Linked DNA regions of Homo sapiens. The protein of the gene in region 2 purifies or fractionates together with the protein of the main gene of each other region. This does not show direct contact. Each region holds a gene or a part of one and is shown on either strand. Other genes may lie near its edges.

Region 1 (5,366 bases), on a different chromosome or scaffold from region 2:
TGTGTGTGTGTGTGTGTGTGTGTGTGTGTGTGTGCATGTTTTTTTTTTCTTTAAAAACGCCAGGCATTGTGGCTCACACCTGTAATCCCAGCATTTTGGGAGGCCAAGGCGGGCAGATCACTTCAGGTCAGGAGTTCGAGACTAGCCTGGCCAACATGGTAAAACCTCATCTCTGCTAAAAACACAAAACATTAGCCAGGCGTGGTGGCTCATGCTTGTAATCCCAGCTACTTGGGAGGCTGAGGTGGGAGGATCGCTTGAACCTGGGAGGCAGAGGTTGCAGTGAGCCAAGATCACGCTACTGCACTCCAGCCTGGGTGACAGAGTGAAAAATTAAAAACAGAGAGAAGAAAAGCCTTCTAGGCTGCCTGGCGCTCCCACCTCTGTCTCCTCATCACAGGTGTCCTTGTGCTGAGGGACCTGCCCAGGGCCCCATTGCCTGGGCAATAACTCTTCTTTACCATCACTTCTGCCCTGTCTCTCCAACTAGAGGCAACATGGTAGAGCAGAGAGAGCACTGGGCTGGAAGTCTAGAGCCCTCAGTTCTAGACCCCACATGGCTTATCCTTCCTGCCACCAGAACAAGCCCCTCCACTATACCGTGCTACCTCTTATGCCCGATGGCTCCAGCAAACCCTCTTCCCTCCCTGCAAAATGTGAGAGTCAAAGCTAAACCCAACTCTCTCTGAGGCCCTTCTCTTGCTAGAGTCTCAGGTTGACAACAGTGCAGTCCTTGAAAGGCTGGCAAGTTATTCACCCATAGAAAATATTCATTGAGCATACACTGTGTACCAAGCTGCGTGTACACTTTGCACAGAGAAAATGGTCCTAGTGTCAAAGCTGAAAAAGACCTCGGAGATCAGCTAGCCAATTCCCTGAATTTATATAGATAGGGAAACTGGGGCCCATAAAAAGAACAGTTAGTATGGGGGAGTAGAGGGAATACCCAAGGATAAAGTCTAAATTTCTTGGCATGAATTAAGTGAGGACAGGTATGTGAAGAGGCTCAAAGGATTTCTGAAGTGTGGCAGGTTCCTTGGCCTTCACAAGAAGCGTTGGAGGAGCTGCCCCTGCCCACCAGTTCAGCCTCATCTCCGACCTCATCTCTGAGATGAGAATCTTCTTCTCAGAGCTACAACCACACAAAACTGCTTGCCACCCTCCAGCACACAACTCCAGGCGTTCACACCTGCCATCCCCTCTTCCACCTTGGCCTGAAAGGTGCCTTTTCATTCTCAATGCCCTGCTCTACATGCTGCTCCTCCATGAAGTCTTCCTTGCACCCCCTCTTCCCCCAGCTCAGTGCTTCCTTAATGAAGGCCCCACAGACATTAGTGCTGCCTTCTGATATAGTACTGATCACACCCCAGGGCTCCCCTGCACCCCGTGTTCACCATCCCAGAACTTGCCTTCAGACAATAGTTTTAGTGTCTGCCTTTCCAACCAGAACAGTTTCCTGAAGAGCAGTGATTGTCTGACTCCTTTGAGTAACCCCAGGCTCAGCACATAGTAGGTGTACCTATGTGTTTAATAGAAACTGGTGGAGGTGGAGATGGTGGGGCTTGTAGATTAGCTGTAGTAGCAACGGTGACGCTTGCATACTGACGGAGGTAGTGATGATAGCGCATAAATACTTTCACTGCAAAGGCAGTGCTTGCTCCAGGATCCTGTGGGAGGAGTACTGCCCACTGCCAAGAACACAGGACAGGCTAGGCTAGGACTGGTGGGAAGAAGTAGGTGGTATGGAAGGCATATGGACCAGAACTCCAGGAACCACAAGAATGAGCTGGAATGCCTCGTGACCCTCTTAGAAAATGGTGGGGAAGGCCAGGCACGGTGGCTCATGCCTGTAATCCCAGCACTTTGGGAGGTAGAGGCGGGCAGATCACCTGAGGTCGGGAGTTCAAGACCAGCCTGACCAACACGGTGAAACCCCGTGTCTACTAAAAATACAAAATTAGCCAGGCATGGTGGCGGGCACCTGTAGTCCCGGCTACTTGGGAGGCTGAGGCAGGAGATTCGCTTGAACCTGGGAGTCAGAGGTTGCAGTGAGCTGAGATCACACCACTGCACTCCAGCCTGGGTGACACAGCGAGACTGTCTCAAAAAAATAAATAAATAAATAAAAGGGGCCGGGCGCTGTGGCTCATGCCTGTAATCCCAGCACTTTGGAAGGCTGAGGCGGGCAGATCACAAGGTCAGCAGTTTAAGACCAGCCTGGCCAACATGGTGAAACCCCGTCTCTACTAAAAATACAAAAATTTGCTGGGCATGGTGGCAGGCGCCTATAATCCCAGCTACTCGGGAGGCTGAGGCAGGAGAATCACTTGAACCCAGGAGGTGGAGGTTGCGGTGAGCAGAGATCGCACCACTGCACTCCAGCCTGGGAAACAAGAGCGAAACTCTGTCTCAAAAAATAAAAATGAAAATGGTGGGGAAGACCTCACTTGGCTAGACTTGGAGGAGGGGGTGTCCTAAGCAGACAGGAGGCCTCACTTAGTAATCTCCCTACCAGGAGCCTCCTGGGAATCACGCACTTTGCTACAAGATTCAGGGTTTAAATCCTCTGTGAGCTGAGCTGTCTCTATCGCCCCTTCCATGCCAAGCACAGAGATGGGCACCCTGTGAGTGGGCTGACAGTCTTTTAATGAATCAGCCCCTCAGGACAGTGGAGTACAAGGGCATAGAGTACAGTGGGGTATAACTAACGATGGGGGAGGCGGACAGAGATTTCACTCCTCCTAACCAAGGAAGCTGCAGGGACTTGGCTGACTTCCCCAAGTCTGCCAACGGGCTAGAGGTGGCCTTTGGGTCCGCACAAGGAAGGTGTGTGTCCCTGCTCCTCCAACCCCACCATGTTCACTGTGGCCCAAATAACATACAATGCTTCCTCTTATTCGTTTTCTTTAGCATGTGACAGGCCATGAGCAGCTGAGACAGCTTTGAGGGTCTGGAGAGAGAGGGATTTCCAAGGAGCAAGTGCTGAGGGGAGGCTCTCACTCTGCCCTCTGCTGACAAGAGAATGCAGATTTTTGGGGTCACAGGGCTTGGCCACCACAGTTCAACCCTTGCTAGGAGCCCTGCTTCAGGGACTGCAGGGAGGGTACAGTATGGGGAGAGCACACTGATTGAGAGCCCCTTTCAGGCCCAAGGGGAATTTCCAAGAGAAGGGTGAGGGAGAGAGAGCTGGAAGGAGCCCCTGAAGGTGTTGAGGGGAGGGCAGGGAAGACTCCCTTGGCCTTGCTTCCTTCTCAGCTCTTCACACCCCTAGCAGAGGCACCTCTCTGGGATGCGATTTTCCATTTGAAGTCTGAAGAAAGGAGTGAAGAAGCTGAAGGCCTGGCAGTTGTGGGCTTTTCTTCTGCCTCTGACACTAGATGGCCATGTGAACTTGAGCAAGTCACTTCCTCCTCCGGGCCTCAGCTGCCCCATCTGTATGTACCATGAGGGCTCCCTATGACATCTCGGGCCATGAGCTCTGAGAGTCTAGGATCCGGAGATGCCCATCTCTGGGGGCCCATACTGGAGCATTACCTATCATCCAAGGCCACTTAGCCAGGCCTTGTGCTGGCCAGGGCAGAGGGAAGAGTCTGTCAACCCAGTCTCTGCCCTTCGGGTATTCAAAATAGTGAGGTACAGCAATCCCTGGATCCCACGGAACCCCAGATAGCCAGCTGGTCCCAAGTCCCTAGCACGTGCTTTGCCTGAGGCCAGTGCCACAAACCCTTCAATCCCAGCTTCCTTTCATCCTTCCATTTCAGCTCAAGCGCCACCTCCCTGGGGAAGCCATCCCTGACCTCCCTCAGAGATTGCTGTGCTTCCCCTTGTCACACTTGTTAACCCTTAATTACTTGTTCAGCGTATTTTCCCCCCTATACACACACTCATCGTGAGGTTCATGAGGCCCAGGACTTTGTCTCTCTTATTCATCCCGAGGATAGTGCCTGGTATATAACACTTAGGAAATATCTGTGAAATAAGTGAGTGAGGCTCCCTCTCCCGTCTGGACCCTAGGAAAACAATGTCTATCCTCTCACAGGGGTCTGGGGGAGACAGAGCAGCCACCCTGTCACACTCTTTATTTTTTACATTTCTGGGAAGCCAAAATGTCACATTCTTATTGAGAAACCCCAAACTCCTCTGGGAAACCACTCCCCTATTGGAGGTATCCCATAGCAGAGGGAACTCCGCCCCTATTACATTGGTCCAGGCCCCAGGTAAGGACACTGAGGTGCCCTTTACCCAAGAAGAAAGTGGCTGGAAAAGCATATACTGCCCAACCCCAACTCTCTTAAGCACCTTGCTCTAGGGTCTGGGGACAATAATTTCCCCTGGGAGTATCACAGAGATGACACTGACACCAGGCCCTGAGGGCTGAATAGGAGTTCACTGGATAGCAAAGTGAAGGGGAGCACATTCCAGGCAGGAGAAGCAGCACAGGAACTGACACAGAAGGGGAAAACACATGGGAGTGTTGACTGACGGGCAAACAGACACCATCCTGACCTCAGAAGGGCAAGGCGCCCACGACCCCAGAGACTTGACTCTGACTGCTTTGGAACTATCTAGGCCCCTTCCTCAGCAGAGAGAAATGACATTGTTCATAATGGACTCTCCTTACCCACCTTCCTTTTTTTTTGAGTTTTGAATGAAACTGTTGCCCAGTTGAACTCCCGTCGCCCAGGCTGGAGTACAGTGGCGTGGTCTCAGTTCACTGCAGCCTCCGCCTCCTGGGTTCAAGTGATTCTCCTGCCTCAGCCTCCCAAGTACCTGGGACTACAGGCGCCTGCCACTACGCCTGGCTAATTTTTGTTTTTTGTTTTGAGACGGAGCTTTTTGTTCTTGTTGCCCAGGCTGAAGTGCAATGGCGTGATCACAGCTCACTGCAACCTCTGCCTCCTGGGTTCAAGCTATTCTCCTGCCTCAGCCTCCCGAGTAGCCTGGGATTACAGATGCATGCCACCATGCCCAGCTAATTTTTGCATTTTTAGTAGAGATGGGGTTTCGCCATGTTGGCCAGGCTAGTCTCAAACTCCTGACCTCAGGTGATCCCCTCCCGCCTTGGCCCCCGAAAGCACTGGGATTACAGGCGTGAGCCACTGTGTCCGGCCATAATTTTTGATTTTTGTATTTTTAGTAGAGACGGGGTTTCACCATGTTGGCCAGGCTGGTTTTGAACTCCTGACCTCAAGTGATCCACCTGTCTCAGCCTCCCAAAGTGCTGGGATTACAGGTGTGAGCCACCACGCCCAGCCACCTTACTCCCCTTCCTATGACATCCAGGCCACTGGGTCTCAGTGTCTTATCTGGCTGGCTGGAGGTCAGCTCTCCTTTCCTGGACACAGCTCCCATCTCCATGCCTAGCC
Region 2 (4,106 bases):
CTCCCCCGCAGCGCCCAGCCCGGGTCTGCTCCAGGCACCTCCTCAAGACCGGGCCTCCAGCGACTGTCCCTTTGAGCCGCCCTTTCACCCGCAGGCACCCCCGGCCCGTCCCCGCGCCTGCACTCAAGCTGCTTGTTTGCTTGCTCCTGGCTCCTGCAGGGAGCGTCAGCCCCCGGGCTGCTTCCCACTGCTGGAGGCCGGGGGCGCCCGGTGTTCCGCGGGGGCTGCGGCCTCCCCGCTCCACCCCTGCTCACAGGAGCCTGGGCAGCCCGGGGCCCGTCCTTGCACAAAGGCACCAGGCCTGGCCCAGGCCCCGCTCCGCCCGCCCTGTCCCCGCGCTGGGGGACTCGCTCCCCTCCGCCGGGCAGATCCTCCTCTCCGGGGGATTTTCCTGGAGAAGTTACTGGTGCAGATCCAACAGCTGGCGGGACAGTGACCCGGAAGGCCCCCGCCCCGAAAAGCAGGAACAGCAGGAACCTCCAAGGCGCCGCCCGCACCCTCTTCCTCCTCGCCTGGGGCCTCGCGCCCGGAGCCCGCCCCTCTGCCAGGGGTGGACGCAGCCCGGGGAGGGGGGTCCACCTGGCCCCAGGTCCCGCCGCGCTCCGACGACTCGGCCCGCCCTGGCCGCCGCGAGGCTGGGGGTCACTTTGGGACCTAAGTCCGCCCCCGTGGGAGAATGTGTGCCAGGGCCCACTGACAGCTTCCATCGGGGCTCAGGCGCCATCTCTCCCCACGTTTGCCCAGGGTCAGGGGGCCATGCAGGGGAGAGTCGCGCTGCCCCCACTTCCCCCTGACCCTGTGCTCCGAGGAGAGGAACGGGAACTCGCCCGCCCAAGGCCCACGCTCCCCACGTGGCTCAACCAGGCCAGGACCTCGCAGCCACATGGACCGGCGGGTCCAGGAGCCGGGCAGAGGGTCTCCGTGCCAAGCCGCACTGCCCCTGGCCCTCGTCTCCCTCCTTTCTCTCACTGCACGGTGGCCTCATGCCATCCGCTTTGGCCCCAAGAATGGAACTCAGGAGAAAGGGCCTGCCCTCCCCCACCCCCAGCTCCGGGCTGTCCCAGGCCCTGCTGAAGCCCACACCCCTCTTCAGGTGCACACGGCTCCCCTTGGGGCCCTCCCCGGCCTCTGTGCAACGTTCATCAAGGTACCCTTCTTCCCTTCCAGGGACTCTGCTCCTTCCCAAATTCCAGGCCAGATTGGCTGCGGAGAGGCCCACCCTTCCGTGGCAGCTGAGCCCGTCTCTGAATACAAACCAGACCTCCTGTGTCCACAGCTGTAGCTTTCAGGTCAATGCCAGCATGGTAAGAGTCAGTTCCCACTCTGTGTCCCGTGCATGCGGTTGAAATGGCTGCCCCGTGTCCACCCCACCCTCTTCCTCAGTAAAGGACGGTGGAGGAAGCCCCAAAGGGTCACAGTCCCCTTTTTACAGATGAGGAAACTGAGGCACGGAAGGGTGAAGTGACTGTCCATGCCCTACAGGCAGACACTTCCAAAGCTCCTGCTCACAGTGAGGGGATGGTGGGCCATCTCCTGCCTGGACCACATGAGGTGCTCTGGGGGCTGGGACAGGCTGGGGATTGACACAGAACCTAGGTAGGTTTGCCCGGACCCCTAGAGGCTCAGAAAGCTGCTAAGGCTGCCTGGCTGGGCCCCCCATCATTGTGCAGCTCCCAAAATAAATCACTCCACAGCCACTTTTGAATTCTGTTTTATATCAAGCTATAAAAACCTGGATCCTGTTCAACATACATACAAAAGCAGTACTCTAAAAAATAATTATTATTATATTAACAATATCAAACACGCTAACTCCTACACACGTACAAAGACCTTGGGCATCCTTTATACCGGCCACTTCCTGGCCACAGCTTTGTAAGGCAGTACCTGGGAAAAGGGGACGGACCCAAGAGAGCCGGCCCCAAATCCTGACTCAGCACTGCAGAGGCATCAGCCGGGCTGAGTCATGCCTGAGTCCGAAGGGCCCCCTCTCAGGCTGAGAAGGAACTTTCAGGCCCAGGGAGGAGCAGAGCCTTAGGGGGAGCACATGCCGAGCAGGAAAACGAGCTCACATTTTCCTGGGGTAGAGCGAGGTGCCCGGCAGGGCAGGGGATGAACGGAGGGTGCGGTGGGCAGAATAACGGCCTCCCAAAGATGTCCACGTGACAGTCCCCAGAGCCTGTGACTATGTTAGGTTACACAGCCAGTGGGAACTAAAGTTGCAGATGGAACTAAGGTGGCTAATCAGCTGACCTGAAAATAGAAAGACGACCTGGGTTCTCTGGGTAGGCGCAATGTGATCATAAGCGTCCTTAAAAGCGGTAGAGCAGGCCGGGTACAGTGACTCATGCCTATAATCCCAGCACTTTAGGAGGCTAAGGCTACAAGATCCCTTGAGCCCAGGAGTTCCAGACAAGCCTAGGCAACAGAATGAGACCCTGTATCCACAAAAAATATGTAGCTGGGCGTGGGGGATTGTCTCAGGGGACTGAGACAAGAGGATCACTTGAACCAGGAGGTCCAGGCTGCAGTGAGCCTTGATGCCATGACCAGGCCACTGCACTCCAGCCTGGGCAACACAGCAAGACCCTGTCTCAAAAAAAAAAAAAAAAAAGTGGTGGAGGGAGGCAGGAGAGGGGAGGCCTCAATGAGGTGACGGGAAAAAGATTCAACTACCCACAGCTGGCTCTGAAGATGGAGGAGCCTGAAGTCAAGAATTACGGTCAGCCTCTAAAAATGAAAAGGCCAGAAATGAATTCTCCCCTAGAGCCTCCAGAAGGAGTGCAGGACTGCCGACACCCAGATTTGAGCCCCGGGTCAGCCTTCTGACCCGCAGAACTGGAAGACCTCGTTTTGATCCACGAAGTTTGTGGAAACCTGTCACGGCAATAGGAAACAAATACAGAGGCCAAAGGGTCAACAGTGAGAGGTCAAGCTTGCCCTGCCCCTGCCCAGACCTCAGCCAGACTTCTGGGTGGCAGGGCCCACGGTGGCACCCCCAGGGCCTGTCCCTGCCTTGGGGAAGGGGGAGCCTGAGAGGACCCAGGAGGTCTTGGGCCCTTCGGTAGTAGACACCAAGCCCTCGGGGGACCACCCTCTAGTTGAGGCCTTGGGGGATGAAGAGGGAGGGCTCAGGGCCCCATTGCAGGGCCAGCCTGTAGGGGCCGTGGGGCCACCTGGATGTGACGTCTAATGCTGGCGGTGCTCACAGCTCGCCACAGGACCCTAAAAGCCCCTGCCAGACGAGAGCTCATCTTTTCCTTCTTTCTCTTCCAGTTCTGTCTTCCATTCCACCATTGCTGAATCCCGCTCACGGCGGCCCTGGGCTGCAGAGGGCAGATGGGTGAGGCTCGGCCCCTGTCTCCAGAGAGCTGAAGAGGGCCCTCGGCCCCACCCACGAGGAGGACAGTCATGAGGCCGACTGTGGAGGGGCTCTGGACAGAGGTGTCCGGGGATCCCTGAGCCTGGCTGCACTCTCCCTCCTGGTTCTTTCCTTGCGTGCACACGATCAGCTATCGTTTACAAAGAGTCCTTGGTGTTGCCTGGTTGGCTGCCCAGGATGGGAGCTCCTGCCCCCATCGGACATGTAAACAAACCAAGGTCTGTCCAGTTCCAGCTGACAGGGCCTGCACCTCCGCCAGGGCTAGGCAGAAGTAGCATCAGAGCACAGGAGACCCGGGAGGAACCGAGAACCAGCGCTGCTCTTAACAGCTCCCAGCGGGGTGTGCCCAAGGCTTGCTGGGCACTCACAGGCAGGTCAGGCCACAGGAAAAGCTAACCAACCTTTATAAGGGAAAATAGGGGCCGGGAGGGCTCCTGCGCCCCCATGCTGACGTCCAAGATGCTCCGGATGCGCTTGACCTCACTGTTGGATAGGTTCCCCTTGATGGCCAGGATAGCGCTCAGGTGGCCTTTGCTGGCAAAGAGAGCATCCTGTCAGCCCAGCCTGTCACCCACACCCCTACTCACCAGCTCCCTGCACTCCCGGCCAGTGCCACAGGGCCCGACAGCCAACGCCCGGCCCACGAGGGGGCTGCACTTCACTCTCCCTCACCCATGCCCTCCACCTGATGGTCCCAAGAGCAGCCATGCCCCAGCCTGCTTCA
Region 3 (5,366 bases), on a different chromosome or scaffold from region 2:
ACCTGTTAATTTCATGCGTTATCTTTCCTATTTCCCATCGCCAAAGTCCATTTGCTGCATGTAACTCAAACGCAATGGAGCTTCAAAGGGTGATTGGGGAACCTCCCCGTAGTCGGTACTGTCCTGAATGTTCCTTTTCCAGGAAAGGTGGGGCTCTTTCCTGCGTCGCCAGGACTCAAGCTAGCACCTAGGTTTTGAATGTTTAAAAGTTGATTCTTAAGAAATACAGTAGCCGCACGTTTGGCCTGGTTTCAGAGGAGTCCTTACGCAAATACACTTCCCTCTCCTAGGAGCCAGGCTGGGCTCGCCGCCCCTGCTCCCCCGCTTTCCCAGGCTCGCCTCCTCCTCTTCCTGCCCACCTCTATGCCCCGCACCTACCCAGTCCCCACTCTGGCAAACCCCGGAGCGCCACCGCGCCCATTGGCGGGTTTGCTTTTATTGGTTTGTTCTGCGCTCCCTCCCGCCTTCTGGCGCGGGCACTGGATGCTAGCCGTTTTGCTCCAGGAGATATAAGAAGCCCAGGTTTTCCCCCTTCCTGGGAGCGCTGCGGATCATTCGCAGGCGGCCCGGCACCCTCGCATAGGTGGGCCGGCCCCTGGGGCTCCAGCCGTGCGACCCCGGAACCACACGTGTGGCGAGGAACGGGTCCCGGGGCGGAGTAGGCAGAGTCCCAAGCGCATCCTTCAGCCACACCTCCTCGGCTCTAGGGGGCGGTGAGCAAAGGCGGTCACCCCTGCAACCTCGCCCGCTACCCCCACGCACTCCTCCGTGTTCACATGGTAGGAACTCCCACAGGCAAAAGCCTTTCCGATGCGCTCTGCAGCCGCGGGATCACTCGGGTGTTTGAACGCTCGCGCGCTCCTCCCATTGGAGCTCCGGCTAAGGCGGGGCCCAGGTGCTTGCTTCCTCCGAGCTTGCTTAAGGTTTTCATGTTGCAAGTACTAGATGTTGAACCCAGGTGGCTTCTTACTGTTCTGGAGGAGAAGGCTGCTAGGACTGGTTTTTTTTCTTCGTCCTCCTTCCCTCCTACAAAAAGAATGGGCGGTGTTTCGGGAAAAAGTCCGCCTTAGGATACTTTAGTGTGTTTACTGCTGCCCCATGGTCACATGCACGGCTGTTTATAAATTGCATCTTTATTGAGGAAGAAGGTAAAAAACCTAGAGAGGGCAAGGAACTATTTATTTTGTATATGTGATTATTTGGACCGTTCAAATTTTCCTTTAAAAAACAAGAATTATAATTCAAAGAAAATGCTATTCTGACTACTGCCAGAAACTTAAGGTGTTTAAGCAAAATTCAAAAGTAAAACCAGAGTTTATTTTGTTGGAATGAATGTAACATAAACATAACTTTATCATTTTCAATTAGAAACTCTGGTCTGTTATCATTTTGGCTGGTGGTTCTGTAATGTACGTCTAAGGGGAAAAACACCAGATTCTCATATGTTCCCTCCTCATCCCTTTTATTTTTCAGTCCAGAGCACAACCTCCAGAAGACAACAGAAGGAAGCCAGTTTTGGGGAAACTTGGCACTCTATTCACTGCAGGAAGGAGAAGAAACAGTAGAAACGGGTTAGAGAGTCCCACCAGATCAAATGCCAAACCACTCTCTCCCAAAGATGTGGTAGCCTCTCCTAAGCTCCCAGAGAGAGAGAGTGAGAGGAGCAGATCTCAGAGCAGCCAACTGAAGCAAACGGACACAAGCGAGGAGGGCTCCCCGCGGGAGAATCCCCGAGAGGCAGAGGGCGAGCTCCCCGAGAGCGGTGGCCCCGCAGCCCCCCCTGACGCCGAGCTGTCACCTCGCTGGAGCAGCAGTGCAGCGGCTGTGGCTGTGCAGCAGTGCCATGAAAATGATTCACCCCAATTAGAACCTCTGGAGGCAGAGGGAGAGCCTTTCCCAGATGCCACCACCACTGCCAAGCAGCTGCATTCCTCGCCGGGAAATTCCTCCAGGCAAGAGAACGCAGAGACGCCCGCCCGCAGTCCGGGGGAGGACGCTTCACCAGGTGCTGGCCACGAACAGGAGGCTTTCCTGGGTGTGAGGGGTGCGCCAGGGTCGCCCACCCAGGAGCGGCCCGCGGGAGGACTAGGCGAGGCCCCTAACGGAGCCCCCAGTGTGTGTGCCGAAGAAGGCTCCCTGGGGCCCCGCAACGCCCGCAGCCAGCCCCCCAAGGGCGCGTCTGATTTGCCAGGTGAGCCTCCGGCCGAGGGCGCAGCGCACACGGCCAGCTCCGCGCAGGCAGACTGCACAGCCCGCCCCAAGGGTCACGCCCACCCTGCTAAGGTGCTAACTTTGGACATCTACTTGAGTAAGACTGAGGGGGCACAAGTGGACGAGCCGGTCGTGATTACTCCCAGAGCGGAAGATTGCGGTGACTGGGACGACATGGAGAAGAGGTCCAGCGGCCGTAGGTCGGGGAGGCGGAGGGGGTCGCAGAAATCCACCGACTCCCCCGGCGCGGACGCCGAGCTCCCTGAGAGCGCTGCCAGGGACGACGCGGTGTTCGACGACGAGGTGGCGCCAAACGCGGCCAGCGATAACGCCTCGGCGGAAAAGAAAGTGAAATCTCCGCGGGCAGCCCTCGACGGGGGCGTTGCCTCCGCTGCGAGCCCAGAGTCCAAGCCCAGCCCCGGTACCAAAGGGCAGCTCCGAGGGGAGTCGGACCGGAGCAAACAGCCACCCCCGGCTTCGTCCCCCACGAAGAGGAAGGGCAGGAGCCGTGCCCTCGAGGCCGTGCCCGCCCCGCCCGCCAGCGGCCCCCGGGCTCCCGCCAAGGAGTCCCCACCCAAGAGGGTGCCCGATCCCAGCCCAGTCACCAAGGGCACTGCGGCCGAGAGCGGGGAGGAGGCGGCGCGGGCCATCCCCCGCGAGCTCCCGGTCAAGAGCAGCTCGCTGCTGCCGGAGATCAAGCCCGAGCACAAGAGGGGCCCGCTCCCCAACCACTTCAACGGCCGGGCAGAGGGAGGTCGAAGCAGAGAGCTGGGCAGAGCGGCCGGAGCGCCTGGAGCTTCTGACGCCGACGGCTTGAAGCCCAGGAACCATTTCGGCGTGGGCAGGTCGACAGTGACCACTAAAGTGACCCTGTAAGTAGCCGCGCAAGTCCCGGCCGAGTTGCTGTCCGCACACGTGCTGGGGGTCCGCTCTGAGAGGCTCGGGGTATCTGCATTGTGGAAGAAACGTCTGGTCACTGAACTTTCCCCTCCATGCTGAACTTAAGATAGTGAAGGGCCAGTTTACACAGTCAAGATTTAAGATGACACCTGTGGCAGCCTCCTCAGTTAATTCCCTTTTTAACACAAGATTTAAGTTTAACGAATGTAAAAATAGGATATCCGTTGAAGCTCAACGTTTATGTAGATGAGAGATAAGACCTCATGGCCTGACATGAGCTGATTCTATTCTTTATTCAAAATGTACAAGGGTGTTCCAAGGTGGGATGTTCTTAAAATGCATGTGCTGTGAATTTCAAAATATGGAGCAAACAGTAACATGTTAAATACGATCCAGTAGCTTTGACATGTGTGAGTTTTAAGAGAATTTGCAGAACCTTTTATGGCACTCAGTGCATTTATTGGCAAAAAGCTTAAAAACACACAAGAAAAGTTCCTAATACAAGTATCTTGGTTGCTTCTTCCCCTTTATAATGTTAGGGAGTCTGGTGATACTTTTGGACCCAGGCTGAAAAGTAGTTTTCAGTTACTGAAATAAAGATCAGTGTTCTTACTGGAAGATTATTTGCTACATGAAAGCAGCTGTGACAGGTGTGAGTTTAAGATAATTCCAAAACATTTTATGGAACTTAGTGCATTATTGGCCTAAGCCTTTTTCAAAAAGTCCCTAATTTATGTATCTTGGTTGCTTCTTCCTCCTTGTGCTGCATGAAAGCACAAAACAACTGTGACTACTTGCTGTTAAGTTTATTCATTTCACAAGTAATTTATTTAATACTTTCTGTGCAAGATATTGTGCTAGTCACTGTGGGGGAAAAAAACCCTACAACTGTGACTCAGGATATTGCCCTGAAATTTTTATAGCCCCATCTGGCACACAAAAAGCACACAAATCAAATAACAATACAAGATGATATCTGATGAAACTGCCAAACGAATGTTACCATCTGTAAATCCTGGGGAAGTGCTAGCGAGCAAGAAATCACTGCTGGTGCTTTGGGGGAGCTGGGCCTTGTGCCTTGATGATAAATGCAATTTGTATAGGTGGACAGGATAGGGAAGGTACTCTATGAAACTGATAAGACCCTCCCTTCTCACACTTCTGCTCCCTCACCACTCCCACTTAGCACAGGTGAATAATGATTAAGTGCTTAAGTTTTTCCTCCATTCACATATTTGTTCAAGGAGTGGGTATTTTAACAACATTATCATTATAATTCTTGAACCTAATGGTTTCTTTCATTCTATTTGATTTCTTGGATAAGTAAGCTTAAGAGGAGGAGAGTTCTGATTGGGAGAACTCTGAGAACTCTGAGAGGGAAGTATGCGTAATGAATAACTTGACTACCTCACCAACTGCCAACCTGGAGACCTTTGATATAGTCAGTGATTTATTCTGTGATGGTAGGTAGCATCAGAGAAATGAGCTGGGTGAATGATGCCTATTATTTATAGAAGACCAGTGTGATTGAATGCTAAAGCCTCCTAAATGTGAGCCTTAGAGAAACATTGCTGTGTACCTTATGAAGGATGGTTCACCTGTCTTCCAATTAGAAGACACCAGTAGAAAAACCAGAAATGTTACACTGTGAAATAGTAGGCTAAACAAACAGGAAAGATGATCTTATAATGAAATTCTTCGTTTGCTGTTCTCTGTAATAGAACTAAACCAAATATGTCTTTCCCAGTTCTGATTAATTTATACCTAAAAATTTTCTTTACCAGACATTCAATGTATTTGTTTTGCGCAGTGCCTTGCACATGGTCATTTGGCAAATTATTGACTTAAAAATTAATAAGTATTTCTAGTCCTTTGACCCATTTCTTTGTGACTGATGGTTTTTTCAGACCCTTTAATTCTTCCTATGACCGTATCGCAAGATGTTAATCAGATTATTCTTTAAAACAATTTGAGACTGAAGAGTAAGAAAAACTATTTCGTATTTCCTGAAAAATGACACTGAAGTAGCATGTTCCTTTATGCTGTTAGAAAAATTATTACTTCAAGTTCTCTACCAAGTGCTGAATGTTGAAATTCTTAAAATGGTATATGTAGAATAAGGAGAATTTTCCTCTTATAATATAACTATGGCTTTTTGGACTCCAAATTATTTTCCCCTGTCTCATAATGAAGGCATTACAACATGAATTATAGGAGCCTTCCTTTTAATCAGTCTGAAGTAGGTTAATTGTAGT
Region 4 (5,366 bases), on a different chromosome or scaffold from region 2:
ACAGGGTTCCTAATAATGCTGTCCATCATTAACAGTTATTGTTTTGGTCTCACCATTTCTAAACCTTCTTAGATGTCGTTAAACCAGCACAAACCAGCCAGAATGCAATGGTCTCAAAAACAAAAAGGTTCCTAATAAGTTTTCATACCATCTAGCACAGTGCCTAGCATAGAGTAGGCATGGAATAAATATCTGATGAATGAATGCAGTATCTTTTAAGACCATTTCCTATGCTTATATTAATTAATGATTTATGAGTAATATGCTGATTTAGGGTACACAGACCTAACATGATGACTAAAGGAAGAACACATCAGACATGAAAATAGACACTGTTAGTTTCTACAATCCTGCTCCAGGACAGAACATGTATTTGAAAGGTTAAAACTATTCCAATAATAAAAATTGATTAGTCAAATATTTTTATTTTGCCAAAGAACTCTAAAAGCCTTTGGTGATTCCCAAACATACAATGAACCCCAAATAAAACAAAACCAAATTGCACTATTACAAAGGAACAAGTCCATGAAAGTAGAGAGGAGGCGCCAGTTAAGGGACAGCAACTTCAAGGAGACGGTTGTTTTTTCGTTTACATGTTGGGACACTCCCATTTTTCTGGTTTCCCTGAATAAACTTCACACATACTTTGTCCTGTCTGAACTGTACCAGGAACCTAGGAGAAAAGAATAAAACAAATTAAAGTATACACAAAACAGCTCATGATTACAATAACACTTGCTTTTGTATTTTAATGGATACTGATCTTGACGAGTACAGGCTGCGCATCCCTAACCTAATCCGAAAATCTGAAACCTCCAAACTCTGAAATGTTTAAAGCACTGACATGATGCTTAAAGGAAATGCTTGCTGGAACATTTCAGATTAAGACTGAAACATTAAGTATAATGCAAGTACAGTCTATGGGCTACCTAACAACGTTTCAGTGAACAATGAACCACATATATGATGGTGGTCCCATAAGCGCGGAAAAATTCCTATGGCTTAGTGACGTCATAGCTCTCCTAATGTAGGGCAATACACTACTCATGTTTGTGGTGACTGATGTAAACATACCTAATTCACTGTCAGTCATATACGATGGGGGTCCTATAAGATTATGATGGAGCTGGCCTATACAGTCGTACCATTTTTTTGTCTTTTATACTGTATTTTTACTGTACTTTTTCTGTTTAGATAGACAACTATTTACCATTGTGTTACAATTGCCTACAGTATGCAGTACAGTAACATGCTATAAACAGTTGGCTATACTATAATATACAGCCTATGTGTGTAGTAGGCTATACCATCTACGTTTGTGTAAGTACACACTCTATGATGTTTGCACAAAATCACCTAGTGACACACTTCTTAGTACACATCCCCAAGTTAAATGACACATGACTGTATTCCAAAACAAGAAACTGGGAACACTTCTTGTCCCAAGCATTTCGAATAAGGGAGACTCAACCTGTATCACTTCTTCCCATGAGCACTTCTTACACAGAATTGTATCAATGCAATTTACCTCCAGTAGTCCTCATTTAGCCCTAAGAAAACTAAAGTTCATTAACTCATCATATTCTAGTAAGGTAGAAAGGCTAAGAATTATTTCTGTGTTTCAAATGGAAAGACCAACAGGTTATATTTCCATTTTTCCACGGCAAAAAAAAAATATGGGAGGGGGCTCCTATTAAATTATCAACAAATTGAGAAAATGAGGTAAAGAATTTCACAAAAGGAAGGGGCCTGGCAACCCTCTAGTCTATGGCTTCTAAACACTGGTTACTCACATATGTCCTACATAGTTTTTGTCGTTATCTGCATAGTATGCTAATAGCTATTGCTAGCTTAAATGTATTTCAAAATAATAGTGACCTACAGAATATGCATAAAATCATGTGTTTGATCTACCACATATATCTTTAATACCCATTAAAATATTTATATAAAAATTATAAAAATTTAAAAAATCCATTAGTGTATAGAAATTAATTCATGGATTAAAAAATCCATTAGTGTATTTTTCCCTCAGTGTATCATGTGGACCACTGCTGGGATAAGAGATGACTTTAGGTGTACAATTGAGCATCCACAGAGGGTTCTTCACACCATCCCTGTGCTGGTGCTGCGAGGAACCCCCAACTGTATATGATGAGATCCCTGAACTGAGGATAGCATCACTGGGGGACATGAGAGCTGCATCGCTGGGCCAGAAACCAGGTCTTCCAGTTCCAAAACCAGTGATCTCTTCTCTCTACCCTCATAATTAGCATAGCATTATGACATTTTCCATATTCTCAGGGATGGTTTTCTCAGTCAATGGCACATTACTAAAGTGAGTCAACCTAACAACCACTGACCACTTACTGACATCCCCCAGCGATGTGAGGATCCACAGCTCTGCTCTGTATCCATTAGTTTCAGTTTCAAGGTCTAAAGAGGCCACATTTTGCAAACATTATCTGCTAGAATGAAACAAGGCAAATGTGTTTCTAATTCATCAGTTGTTTTATAAGGATAGTGCTTCTGATCTTTTAAATGGGTTCTTCATTTTCAACTTGAAAGCAATGAGGAAAGGACAGCTATAGTTCCAGATTCAACTACCTGAGATATATCTCTGGCATATATACTTGTATGTATGTGTCTCAAAAAAAATCTTTCAGGTTTATTGAAAATTCACACATTTTAAAAATCAAACACTTTCACATTTTTATTTTCAAAGACCACTTGTGGCTGGGCACAGTGGCTCATGCCTGTAATCCCAGCACTTTGGGAGGCCAAGGCAGGCAGGTAACTTGAGGCCAGGAGTTCGAGACCAGCCTGGCCAACATGGCAAACCCACGTCTCTACTAAAAATACACAAATTAGCCAGGGACGGTGGTGCATGCCTGTAATTCCAGCTACTCGGGAAGCTGAGGCAGGGGAATCGTTTGCAGCTAGGAGGCAGAGGAGGCTGCATTGAGCCGGGATCACACCACCGGACTCTGACCTGGGTGACAGAGGGAGACTCTGCCTCAAAATAAATAAAAAAGACCACTTGTAAGTGTAATAAATGTATAGGAACTTCTTTCCCCAATAACCTTGGCCTACATTAACTGTTTCCATGTCTATAATTCCTGATTAATATTCACACTAGAGGCCAGGCACGGTGGATCATGACAGTAATCCCAGCACTTTGGGAAGCTGAGGTGGTCGGATCACCTGAGGTCAGGAGTTTGGAACCAGCCTGGCCAAGACGGTGAAACCTCGTCTTTACTAAAAATACAAAAATTAGCAGGGCGTGGTGGTGCATGCCTGTAACCTCAGCTACTCGGGGAACTGAGGCAGGAGAATCCCTTGAACCCAGGAGGCAGAGGTTGCAGTGAGCCGAGATCTCGCCACTGCACTCGAGCCTAGGCGACAGAGCAAGACTCTGTCTCAAAAAAAAAAAAAAAAAGATTCACACTAGAAATAACAATAGGCAAGATATATTGAGGATTTGCTACATACCACACTGTGCTTGGCCATTTACTATGTTATTAGATCAGGCTTTAAGACAATCCTAGGAGGTAAGCACTATTATTTATCTTCACCTCATAGAAAAGAGAAAATCCTCCTCCAACAAACAATAACATGGAATGTATTATTTCATGGCATTCATACCAGTTAGAATTTCAAGGTAAAAGGAACATGGATTAGTTGTTTGGATTTCAAATATTCAGAAAACCAATTGTATAACTTAAATGATATATGTGTATCTATTGTACACACGTGTATACCTATATGTATATACACACACATATATTTAAAATGTTTAATGAAACAAATTCACTTTAGTTTTTACTCTATTTGGGAACTTGATTTTAGAAATATAGTCATGCATCATCTAATAAAAGGGATACATTCTGAGAAATGCATCACTAGGTGATTTTGTCATTGTGCAAACATCATAGAGTGAGTGCATTTACCCAAACCTAGATGCTACAGCGTGTTATTGTACTGTAGGTAACTGTAACACAATGGTATTTGTATGTGTAAACTTAGTAAGAATAGAAAAGGTACAGTAAGAATAGCATAAAAGATAAAAAATAGTGTACTTGTCTAGCGCCCTTACCATGAATGGGGCTTGCAGGCCTGGAAGTAGCTCTGGGTGAGTCAGTGAGTGAGTTGTTAGTGAATGTGAAGGCCTAGGACATTACATTACGGTATACTTTATAGGTAATTTTTTCTTTCTTCAATAATAAATTAACCTTTGCTTACTGTAACTTTTTGCTTTATAAACTTTACAATTTTAAAAACATTTTTGACACTTTTGTTTTGTTTTTGAGGCAGGGTCTTGGTCTGTCTCCCAGGCTGGAGTTCACTGGAGCAATCATGGCTCAGGGCAGCCTTGACCTTCCCGGGCTCAGATGATTCTCCCACCTCAGCCTCCTGAGAAGCTGGGACTACAGGTGTGTGTCACCATGGCTGGCTAATTTTTTAATTTTTTTGTTGAGAAGGGGTTTCGTCATGTCGCCCAGGCTGGTATTGAACTCCTAAGCTCAAGCAATCCACCAGCCTTGGCCTCCCAAAGTGCCAAGATTACAGGCGTGAGCCACTGGGCCCGGCTGTTTTTTGGCTCTTTTGTAATAACACTTAGCTTAAAACACAATACTTTGTATAGCTGTACAAAAATATTTTCTTTATAACCTTATTCTATAAGCTTTTCTCTATTTTTAAAATTTTAATTTTTTTTATTTTTACTTTTTAAACTTTTTGTTAAAAACTAAGATACAAACATATTAGCCTAGGCCTACACAGGGTCAGGAGCATCAATTTCACTGTCTTCTATCTCCATGTCTTGTCCCACTGGAAAGTCTTCAGGGGTAATAATACACATGGGGCTGTCTTCTCCTAAGATAACAATGCCTTCTGAAATACCCCCTTAAGGACCTGCCCGAGGCTGTTTTACTATTAACTTTTTTAACATGTAGGCATACACGCTAAAATAAAGATAAAAAGTACAGTATAGGCCGGGCGTGGTGGCTCACGCCTATAATCCCAGCACTTTGGGAGGCTGAGGCGGGCAGATCACAAGGTCAGGAGATCGAGACCATCCTGGCTAACACGATGAAACCCCACCTCTACTAAAAGTACAAAAAATTAGCCGGGCGTGGTGGCGGGCAGCTGTAGTCCCAGCTACTCGGGAGGCTGAGGCAGGAGAATGGCATGAACCCAGGAGGCGGAGCTTGCAGTGAGCCGAGATCACGCCACTGCACTCCAGCCTGGGCAACAGTGCAAGACTGAGTCTCAAAAAAAAAAAAGTATAGTATAATAAATACATAAACCAGTAACAACATCATTTATTATCAAGAGTTACATATTGTACATAATTGTATGTGCTT

What was found. The genes of interacting proteins can lie anywhere in the genome.
Region 1: the proteins of TNFAIP2 (region 2) and NHSL3 purify together in Homo sapiens (affinity purification with mass spectrometry, with the first as the bait; one large-scale study listed by BioGRID). This does not show direct contact.
Region 3: the proteins of TNFAIP2 (region 2) and CRYBG1 purify together in Homo sapiens (affinity purification with mass spectrometry, with the first as the bait; one large-scale study listed by BioGRID). This does not show direct contact.
Region 4: the proteins of TNFAIP2 (region 2) and MYO1B purify together in Homo sapiens (affinity purification with mass spectrometry, with the first as the bait; one large-scale study listed by BioGRID). This does not show direct contact.

What each region holds. Positions count from the first base shown.
Region 1 is NC_000001.11:32,747,570-32,752,935, reverse strand, and holds part of NHSL3 (NHS-like protein 3), read right to left. Parts: intron 1-5,366. UniProt on the Homo sapiens protein: Able to directly activate the TNF-NFkappaB signaling pathway.
Region 2 is NC_000014.9:103,135,029-103,139,134, reverse strand, and holds the end of TNFAIP2 (tumor necrosis factor alpha-induced protein 2), read right to left. Parts: intron 3,917-4,106; coding exon 3,775-3,916; 3' UTR 3,327-3,774; coding exon of another isoform or gene 3,132-3,326; 3' UTR 1,696-3,131; downstream 1-1,695. UniProt on the Homo sapiens protein: May play a role as a mediator of inflammation and angiogenesis.
Region 3 is NC_000006.12:106,509,957-106,515,322, forward strand, and holds part of CRYBG1 (beta/gamma crystallin domain-containing protein 1), read left to right. Parts: intron 1-1,473; coding exon 1,474-3,083; intron 3,084-5,366. UniProt on the Homo sapiens protein: May function as suppressor of malignant melanoma. It may exert its effects through interactions with the cytoskeleton.
Region 4 is NC_000002.12:191,419,144-191,424,509, reverse strand, and holds part of MYO1B (unconventional myosin-Ib), read right to left. Parts: intron 674-5,366; coding exon 550-673; 3' UTR 1-549. UniProt on the Homo sapiens protein: Motor protein that may participate in process critical to neuronal development and function such as cell migration, neurite outgrowth and vesicular transport.